2 separate regions of the Homo sapiens genome follow, and region 1 is linked to region 2. The links come from fine-mapping of genetic effects on gene expression. Tissue or cell type: whole blood. Region 2 holds a variant in brackets; the other region holds the start of a gene. All regions are shown on one strand. Distances are from middle to middle. Region 1 holds the start of ITGA6 (integrin subunit alpha 6). Region 2 overlaps PDK1-AS1 (PDK1 and ITGA6 antisense RNA 1).

Region 1 (5,376 bases), 82 kb before region 2:
TTATAGGCGTGAGCCACTGTGCCTGGCCAAAACTTGATGGTTATAGTCAGAAGGAGCTGACAATCTTCAAATAAATTATGTCAAGAGTGAGGGTTTGACTCAACTTCAAGTATCTTCGGCATCTATGTTGAGAGTGAGAGTTTGACTCAACTTCAAGTAGGTAGGAGACAGGTGGCAGGTAGGAGCACTGAGCTAATAAGTTTTCCATTTGCGATGGGCACTTGACATATTCCAGAACAAGACTCCCAGCCTTGTTTTTCTTTATCTGAACCTCTTCCCACACAAGCATAATTTGCTTCAGTAGTGCTATACATGTAGTTGTGATATTTAAATTTAATATTATTTAGAATTTCAATTTGAGCACAATCTGTGTTTGGGATAAAGTAAATAACTCTGGCCATTCATACATCATCCACTAAACACATCTTGGGAAGACAGGAATCAATGGTCCACAGAATTACTCTTAGAAGCAAGGGGTGATATTCAGAATAGTTAACAGCTGGTGTGACATGGGGATATCCAAGCAGAGGGAGCCCTTGCTGCATCAGGGCTTAAGGGCTTAAACTTTCATTTGCCAGGTTGTGAGGAAGTTGCTTAGTCCTAGGAAAATGGGCAGGGCAGGGATGGTTGCCTGTGAGGAACTAAGGGCAGCAGCTTTTATCAACCAATTCAGAATATTTCAGTAACCATTACAGCCAAATCACCAGCTCCTGGCTGAGTACACTCTGCAGTGAGGTTCATTATACTATGCCTATAATAGTCTGGACCCCATCTCTCTGGAATAGTACATATTTTACACGAAGGGAAAAGGCTAACTTGCAACTTATTTGCATGAAAAATCACGTTGCAAGTACTTCTTAGTTTACTAGATTGTCTCCAATAGTTTCTCAACCTTATCAAGATATATTTGTTAAAACTGTGTGCTCTCCAAAATCATCTACTGAATTTAAACCACTGCACCCCACTTTGGACTATAATTGACTGGAGTTACTGATTGGAAAGGAAGTGGTACACACCCCTAATATACTGACGGACTTACTCTGACAGCTGCTACCACCTGTGGGGACCCTTGATGATGTTCACGCAGCTTTTCTGAGTGGCACATGCTGTTCTCTTGAATACTCCTTGAGGTGAAGAAGAGGCCACCCCTACCCCTATGCACACACAGCTCCTGCTCTTTCCTGGGGCTGCACCCTGCTTGTATTTCCAATGCAGGGATGTCAGATTCCAAAGAGGGCTCCCCAAGGCATTCCAGAAGGCTTCAGGCCAGCACGTCCCAACCTTTTCATGCCATGGGACCCCTTTGGCAGGCTGCTGAAAACCATGGGGTTCTTCTCAGAATAAGGGTTTTAAATACATAAAAGAAACCACAAGAGGTTACAAAAAAAGCCAATAATATTGAAATGTAGCTAACAAAATGTTTTTAAAAATTTGTGCTAGAGCAATATATATGCTTCATTATTGACATATAATATCTGGCTGATTGTCTAATAACTACTGTTATTTGAGATACTTGCAACAACTGTGATGTGATGTAAAAACCTATGGTTTCTAGTGATTACTAAGTCATAAATACTTATCCTACTGCTACTGTAGTTTGTTGTCTACGTTCATAATGGCAAAACGTGCTAAATGTCAGAGGTTGGTGAAAATTAAGACGTAAATTTTTTCTCATCCAAGTTCACAGTACTCTTGAATTAATTACCTCTCCTCGGGTTAAGAACCCCTGCAGGATAAGGTTGCCCCTAGGGCCAACACCTCACTGGAGCCCCGCCTCATGTCCTGGAGGCAGGAGCCTTCATGCCACCTACACAGAACTCGGAGCTGTCTCTTGGCCCAGCAGTTCTCCCCACAACTAGTTCTGAAAGTCCGGGGCTAGGAAAGAACGGCATCGTCGCCTGAGCTCCTGGCGCCACTTTAAACAACCCATCCTTGACTTGCGTGACTTCTTCCACAAGCTCTCCTGGTCACCTGGGCAAAATCCTAGGTGATCTGGGGACAAGGCGGAACTTCGGTTTTCTGATCTGCAAAAAGAAACACCTACCTCATAGGACTGTTAGGATGAATTGAGGTAATGGCTGGGTTGTGTACATTATACAGCACTATCAAGGTGTGCGCTGTGATCATTTTTGAGGGTTGTTAGGTGTTTGAGGACCCAGAACAGTCTACACAGCTGTAGTCCCCAAGTGTTGGGCACGCCTTAAGCGCTCCATAAACACCTGTAGAAATGAATGAATGACGTATGCATCTGCACGTGGGCCCACATCTGCAAGAACAGGCTGCTCAGGCCATGAGGCCCGGTGCATCACCTGCACTTCTCTTTATAACGGGTAGTAAAGTCTCCCTCGCTCTGTGCTACTCGGCAACCACAATTCTGTCCACAGAGGGCGGCGCAGTGGGGCTGCTTCGCCGCGAGCTCGCCTCCGGGGCTCCCACGTCGTGGCTTCCGGGCAGGTACCGGGCAGCTGGAGACGCCAGAGCCGGCGGGTAAGGTGCGGGCGGTGCGCCGGGCCGCGGGCGCGCAAGGAGGGGCGAGAGGGTGGGGAGGGGCGGGGCCGGCGTCCTCGTCACTTGATAAAACGCCTGCGAGTCTCCAGAGAACAACGGGCTCATTCAGCGGTCGCGAGCTGCCCGCGAGGGGGAGCGGCCGGACGGAGAGCGCGACCCGTCCCGGGGGTGGGGCCGGGCGCAGCGGCGAGAGGAGGCGAAGGTGGCTGCGGTAGCAGCAGCGCGGCAGCCTCGGACCCAGCCCGGAGCGCAGGGCGGCCGCTGCAGGTCCCCGCTCCCCTCCCCGTGCGTCCGCCCATGGCCGCCGCCGGGCAGCTGTGCTTGCTCTACCTGTCGGCGGGGCTCCTGTCCCGGCTCGGCGCAGCCTTCAACTTGGACACTCGGGAGGACAACGTGATCCGGAAATATGGAGACCCCGGGAGCCTCTTCGGCTTCTCGCTGGCCATGCACTGGCAACTGCAGCCCGAGGACAAGCGGCTGTGAGTTCCCAGACCCTTCCCACCCCCACTGGGGCGCCGGCCTGCGCGCGAGTTGAGGCGAGGGCGCGCCCTGTTCCCGCCGGCCCCGGGGAGTAGTTGGCCCGTGGGTCGCGCCCGGGCCGGCCGAGGCGCACCCAGCGCCCAGCGCGCTCGGCTCCCCGCCCTGACCCGCCCCGCGCGGCGCCTCCCTCCATTCAGCTCGGGAAGGAGGAGAACCCGAGGGCTAGGCTGGGCCCCGGGAGAGTTTACTTTTTTTTCTGTTTTAAACAAAGTGCTTTCCGCCGGTTCTTCCCTCCGGGCGTGTTTGCTGGGACCCCGGCAGGTGGCACGCTTTGCTGAGCTTCACGTGTGTGTTTGGGGCTGGGGTGGCGTTCAGGGTCACCGCAGCGCTGCTGTGGGTTTGCAGGGAGCGTAGTTCCAGGATGGTCTAGGCCTTTCCCAAACTCACGGTGCACCCCGTCTCCCCCGCAGACTGGCGCGCCCCGCACAAGTTGGAAAGCCACTTTCCATGTGTCCTGCATGACTTTCTCAGCAAGGCGGGGGCGCTCCTTAGGAGATACTTTTACATGCCTTTGAAAAAAAAAAAAAAAAAGATGGGGGTGGGGGCGGGAATTAACCAAACACCTGTTCGCTGGACTAGATCAGCTGAGAAAACAAGTCTGAGTGATGTGCCCAGCCCCCAAAGTACTCGGCCGCACCCGAGACCCGCTCGGCTCCTGCGTTGGGCGGGCACAGCCAAGGGGTTAAAGCAAAATGTCCGATCTGAGCCTGGACTTTGCAAACAAGGTTTGTAAGGGACAACCCCCCACCGTAGCGGTAAACCTCCCAGGAGAAAGAGGAGACCGGCACTACTGGCCTCTCCTTTTATTTCTTAAACAGTGTTTGGTTCCCACATGATCGGCTATTTAAGCCGGAGAGGGTATTTTGGCGCTTAGTCGCCTTAATCGCTATGGGGTTGCATTCTTCATCTGTGCTACTGAAAAATAGGCTGTAGCAACAAAAGGTCTCCCCTCCCCACCCAGGCCTTGAGTTGAACTAAGGACCTTCCAGGACCAACAGACCGGAGAAAGCAAAGTGCAGCCACAGTGAAGAGATTTTGTGTTTAGGAGAGGCGAATGGGATTTTAGAACTGGAGGAAACCTCTTGATTTCAGCGGTTAACAACTTTGGAATTCGTGAATGTTGCAGCCCCTGAATTTTAGTCAGTTTTTTTTTTTTTCTGATAACACCTGCTAGGTGAAGCACAGAAATTAGCTGGGGGTGGGGAGGCTCTAGGAGGGTGGTCTGAGGCTATATGCCTGGCCAGCTGCTTATACTCTGCTTTCTCTCAGAAATAATTGTTGTTAAGCTGTAAATCTGAAATGAAAGGTTCCTGTTAACTCAGTTAATAGATGACGTTTATTGTCTCGGAATACTTGGTGTGTAGAATTTGAGCTTGTTAGTGCAGAAATGATTGTGGGCCAGCAGAGGGAATTCATTCTCCTGGGCATTCTCTCTCTGCACCAGAGCCCCACTGAAACCGGTGGCTTCCTTGAAATACTTGTTCAAGCAAAAAGTGTGAAGGGAAAGTACTGGGACAAGAAATATCCTGGCAGTGGAGATTTGCGAAACGTGACTTTGCCAGGAATCTGTGTCGTGAAGGTTAGCAGCATGCTTGCTAAAACTTGTTACTGCTGCTGGGCTTCTCTGGTATTAGAGCTGAGGCAACTCCTCCCGAGGTAAGGATAAGCCTGCAATGGGGTCTGATGCCTTCTAGGAAAGCTCTTCTTAGCAGCTGACAGAGGGGAGAGGCCCCGTATAAGGAGACTGTATGTTTCCTAGAGTCCAAAGGCAGTGACCACACTTTAAAGAGGCTGTGGTTTATGTCACGTGCTGCCCACCTCCATGCTTTTGTAAAGCTTTATTCCAGCTTCAGGAATAGCATTGGTCTTCCCAGGAGAACCAGCACACACAGGCCATAGCACAGGTCAGTTGTCAACCTTTGACAGTAAAGAATGTGGGTGTAAATGGCAGAGCCAGTAAGACTGAGAAAACTTCTGGACCAGCTTCCTAAACTCTATGGAAAAACTCAGTGGGGGTCTTTCAGGGACCTGGTGGGAGAGAGACCTAAGCTGAGATTCCTTCTCGGCCTTTTATTAGCAGCTGTTAATTTACTTTGAGCTTTAATTTCTTTATCTGTAAAATGGAGATATTACTGCTTACTGGGGTTATTATGAGGATTAAGAGATAATATGCAAAGTGCTTAATGCCTGTCTGGCATGGGTACTTGCTGACTAAATGGTAGCTGTTAATGATCATTTAAAAAGCAGTAATTGTGTACCTACTGTGTGTCAGGTACCTTACAAGGTGTCTTAAACATTCTGTGATTCTAAGATTGCCTGAGAGTAAAG
Region 2 (5,376 bases):
CTATACTTGGCATTACATAAAATCTTGGCCTTCTTGGTTCTTTGAAGATCAAACAGGTGTTACCACCCAAAGAAATATGTGATTGATTGGCACTTAATGATTTGGGCCAGTGGCTGTGAACCTTTTTAGCCTCAGTTCACATATCAGATATACCCAGATTAAATCACTACAATAATATGTAATCGTCATAACCTCATAGAGCCTATCAGTAGCTGTGGTTTGACTAGGGCTATGGCATAAATAACACAGACTGTAAGTAAGTCATGGCCCATCCAGTCATAGTGCCTGTGATTCCAACACTTCCCCTCCCTCTCAAAAATTACAGGAACGTCTACCAGCGATTGTGGAATTATTACAGGGTTATCCTTGGATCTATTTGGATTCACAGAGGAATCACTGCAAACATTGATACTTCATTATTGGTTGTAAATTAGTTGCTGCAAATTCAGTGTGTCGTGCATAGTCATGGTTTACGCTTTTCCCTTGTGGCTGAGAATATTCTAGCATGTGGTGTTGATATAGGTGGGGAATGCTTTAAAGATTGTCCAGACTGCCAGCCATGGTGGCTCATGCCTGTAATCCCAGCACTCTGGGAGGCTGAGGATCCTTGAGACCACAAGTTGAGATCAGCTTGGGCAACATGGCAAGACCCAATCTCTACAAAAAATTTAAAAATTAGCCAGGTGTGGTGGTGTGCACCTGTAGTCCTTGCTACTCGGGAGGCTGTGGTGGGAAGATTGCTTGAGCCTAGGAGTTTGAGGCTGCAGTGAGCTATGATCATGCCACTGCACTCTGGCCTGGGCAACAGAGTGAGATCCTGTCTCAAAAATTGTCCAAATCAGGGAAGTAAGGATAAGATCAAGCCTTCTACTCTAAATGAAAACATCTTAATGAGAAACTGGTCTCCAGTACACTATCCCACAAAAGGACAATGTGGGAAGACAAGCCGGGATTGAGAGACTTGTTTTCAAGGAGGGAAAGAGACGCTGTCAGTGGTTGGGTTCCACATAAGTACATCCACAGGGCTGAGAAAACAGAAATGTGGAAGAGTTGTTGGATCAATTTGGGGAGCATAAAGTAAGTGATTAAAAGCAGTTCCTTAAGACCAAAGGACAGGGTCCAACCACTTGGAATGAGGAAAAGGTGAGGGTCAAAGAGGTGAAGAAAATGAACTTCAGAATGATTTCAAGAGTGGCTATTGCATGCTAGTGGGCATCTGTTCTTCCCGTAGTTTCTGATTACGGTTAATAGCAAGTTCTTTTTCTCTCCTGTACCTTAAACAGGTTTTGCCAGCTCCAAAAGGCATCTCATCCAGCTGTTGGAAGGTGGGAGAGCTGTACACTAGGAGCTGAGACCAGGTCTGTGGAGGTGCTACCAATAGACCTCATCTAGGAGGAAAATCATGAGGGGATTCATAGCCAAATCCTCTTGACTCAGGGTAAATGAACTGTAAAACACAAACCAGAGGAAGGAAACTGGTGTGGCCCAGTGCAAGGGTGGACCAGGCACCACAAAGGGCAAAACTAACCAGGTAATAGTTGATGATTACACCAGAGTTGAGGGAGTCAAGTGGTCAAGTGCAATTTTTGTAGCAGTCAGCAAAGCATAAGTGCCTCAATCTTCTCTTGCCCTGGAGGCATCTCTCAGTTATGCTGCCTGTGCTGGGGTCATGGAAACAGTTCCCTGCTAGGAGAGGTCAGATAAATTTCTTACTCTTCAGCCTTCTAAAACGTGCCAAAAATCTCAAGAAATTACAGTGTCAGAATGTGCTACCGTTGTTATCTCAAAGCCTAGCAATTTAAGTTTTCAGTTCACCAACAATCAGTAAGTGGATTTAAGTGAGTGTTCTGTTAAGATCCTGTCATTGTGAGAGGGATGTGATTTAATAATTATTTTCCAGTTGGAAGTAAACAGATGTTTAGGGATGTTAGGCTCTGGGGATATACGTAAGACACTGGCTCTGACCTTTTATAGGAAGCTTATCTGAAACTACAGATGGTATTGACAAGCATAAGTGAATTCACTTTTTATAGGTAGCAGAATTTAAAACCCTAAGATATCAATGATTGACACATAAATTCAATACCTGGCCAGGCGTGGAGGTTCACGCCTGTAATCCCAGGACTTTGGGAGGCCGAGGCAGGCAGATCACATAAGGTCAGGAGTTCGAGACTAGCCTGACTGACATGGTGAAACCCCGTTTCTACTAAATACAAAAAATGAGCCGGGTGTGGTGGTGGCACATGGCTATAATCCCAGCTACTTGGGACGCTGAGGCAGGAGAATCGCTTGAACTGGGAGGCAGAGGTTGCAGTGAGCCAAGACTGCGCCACTGCAGTCCAGCCTGGGCAACAAAAGCAAAACTCTGTCTCAAAAAAAAAAATAAAGTCAATACCTGAACCTTTGTGGGCAGAACTTGCCCCCAGAACAACCCCATTCCCAGAAAATTTAGAGTCATTCTTAAGCAGGTCTACACATTTAAATCACCAAAGAAATACATTTATTAAAATCCCGATGGCTGGACAATCTGCCACACTGACTACATGAGAATCTGAGTGAGACCCAGAAATTAGCGCTGCTTAAAGCTCCCCAGCTGACTCGTAAAGTGCAGCCAGGATTGAGAACTACTTTAGAGATTATTGGATGTTGTGAATATTTATCAAAATAATATGCTCACTGTGTGGAATGCCTCGTTCCTGTTTGTGGTACTTCCACTGCACCAGTAACAGGAGCTGAGAAGCTAGAGGTGCATTTGCTATAGGCAGGGAGGCAGCTGAGC[G/A]GTGCATAAGGGCATGTCTCTGGAGCCACGCTGCAGGTGTGAATTAGCTTCTCCTCTTAGAACATAACCTTGGGTGAGTTACGGATATCTCTGTGCCCAGTTTCTTGGCCTGTAAGATAAGTGCTCACTCAGAGGTTCTTTTTTTTTTTTTTTTTTTTTTTTTTTGAGATGGAGTCTGGCTCCATCGAGACGGAGTTTTACTCTTGCTGCCCAGGCTGGAGTGCAATGGCACGATCTTGGCTCAGTGCAACCTCTGCCTTCTGGGTTCAAGCAATTCTCCTGTATCAGCCTCCCAAGCAGCTGGGATTATAGGCGCCCGCCACCATGCATGGCTAATTTTTTGTATTTTTAGTAGAGACGGGGTTTCGCCATGTTGGCCAGGCTGGTGTTGAATTCCTGACCTCAGATGATCCACCCCTGCTTCGGCATGCCAAAGTGCTGGGATTACAGGTGTGAGCCACCATACCCAGCCCAGAGGTTCTTGTAAAGAGAAAATTGGACCATCTGGAAGTGCTTACTAGTTACTTTTATACTTACCCTTGTTTATTATATAGAACCATAAATCTTAAAAAGGGAAGGAAGCATGGAAATCTAGTTCTACTTCCTCGTTTCACAGATGGGGAGACACGGTTTATTTTTATTGTCACGGGAACCTTTTGTCTCCTCATTCTTCAGTGTCTACCAACTTAAGTCTTACTAGTGGGTGTTATAACTACAAAAAAAAAATACGATGAACCTCTTAAAGTCCTTATCAACATAGATCATTCTGAACAACGACAAGAGTGACCTTATTTCTATGTTAAATTCTGTCTCAACCCTTAATACAGTGACCATAATGCAGTCTTCGGTTGGGGTCAGAAAGATGACATGTTAAGATAATCAACAAAGCATCTTGAAATCGCTAGGTATTGAATCTTTGTGTTTTTCTCCCCGCTGACATGGAAGAGTGTGAAAAGAGCAGATTCTCTTTTTGAACCTTTTCTCAGAGTTCTTTACACACCATCGATTTCTTTGGTTTCCTTTAGTGGGAAGGCAAGCCACAGTTTTACTGCTTATTACCTTTACTGCTGTGCAGAAGAGGAAATGCTCACAGAGCTCATCTTGCACCTGAGTTACACCATGTGTGTTAGAACGGAGTTTGTCACTGGAAGAACAAATTTGAAAACTCCTGCCTCCCACATGTCACAATAATGCATGGACTGAAAGACTATGTAAAGGCAAAAAACATACATATACATGCATTCTTCCATAGGAAGATTGGGGGACTGCCTGATGCCAAGGTGTCCTCAAATTGCTGATGGAACTGAAGTTCTGGGGTTCTTACCTGAGGAAGCCACTGGTGGTCAGGAAGTCTCAATTAGAGAAGTTAAGAGCAGTCTTTCTCAAAATTTAACATGCCTAAGACTCACCTGAGGATCTTGTTGATTCAGGTTCTGATTTAAACAGTCTAGGAAACAGCCTGAGAGTCTACATTTCTAACAACCTCCAGGTGTTGCAATACTACTGATCTATGGATTACTCTTTGGGTGTCAAGGGTCTCTAGAGCCAGTCTTTATTCAAGTCCCTATTGTGTCACTTTTTACTGTATGACCTGGGCAAGTTTAAATGCCTGATGCCTTAATTCCTTCACCTGTAAAATGGCATAAGGTATAATGGTATAAGGAATAAGATTATAACCTAGGCTTACACTGTCTTATGTCTTTCTACACAACTTCCAAACCCCTAACATCCTCAAATGTGTGGATAAGGACTGACTGGGGTGCAGTTAAGTCTGTTTATCTAAATATATAGCTTTCACCGTCTTGACAGGATAGCTGACATTTGTTGTAGGCTACTCTTACAGGCCATGCTTTTAAGATTCCTGCCCCGTGAGAAGGAAAATCCCATGACAGTGAATAGCATTACAACGGAATGGGAAACAATGTGCCAGTTCTAGTAGCTGACCCACAGAAGCAGTGACATGTTGATCTGGTTATAAAGACTTATCTAAATCAGTAATGAAACAAACACATTGAACAGGTTCAGGATGACTTAAAGAGAAGCTTTTGCAACTTGACATTTCCTTTCTCAAGCAGCAACTCAGTGTTTCTTTGCCTGTGCCTACCACGAACAACCCAAGTACTCATGCCAGAAAACACACACACATAAATTAATAAAACTCCTAAGCCACTGTGATACATATCTGTGGACTGGCTTGCTCTATTCCATACTTTTTCTAGTTGGAAGGGCTGAGGTGCTAAAAATACCTTCCCAGACTCCCTTGCAGCTAGGGTTGTACATATGAATTTTTTATTTTTATTTATTTATTTAGAGACAGGGTCTCACTCCATAGCCCAGGCTGGAGTGTAGTGGTGCAATCTTGGCTCACTGCAACCTCCACCTCCTGAGTTCAAGTGATTCTCTCACCTCAGCCTCCCAAGTAGCAAGTAGCTGCAATTACAGGCACCCACCACCATGCACAGCTACCTTTATATTTTTAGTAGAGATGGGGGTTTCAGCATGTTGGCCAAACTGGTCTGAAACTCCTGACCTCAAGTGATCTGCCTGCTTCAGCCTCCCAAAGTGCTGGGATTACAAGAGTGAGCCACCGCACACGG

The links.
Region 1: ITGA6 starts here. The variant in region 2 is fine-mapped to the expression of ITGA6 in whole blood (TOPMed, PIP above 0.99). The same link has a PIP of 0.9 or more in blood mononuclear cells.

The regions. Positions count from the first base shown.
Region 1 is chr2:172,424,984-172,430,359 of GRCh38, forward strand. ITGA6 (integrin subunit alpha 6) reads left to right here and starts at 2,603. Exons shown (of 26, transcript NM_000210.4): 1 at 2,603-2,987. The coding sequence starts at 2,806. RefSeq lists a silencer at 2,551-2,630 and enhancers at 3,415-3,915, 5,340-5,376.
Region 2 is chr2:172,506,926-172,512,301 of GRCh38, forward strand. The region is part of intron 1 of PDK1-AS1 (PDK1 and ITGA6 antisense RNA 1); the gene reads right to left. Among named protein-coding and RNA genes, the nearest start is that of ITGA6-AS1, 44 kb to the left of the region's middle. The variant G/A (reference allele first, on the strand shown) is at 2,780.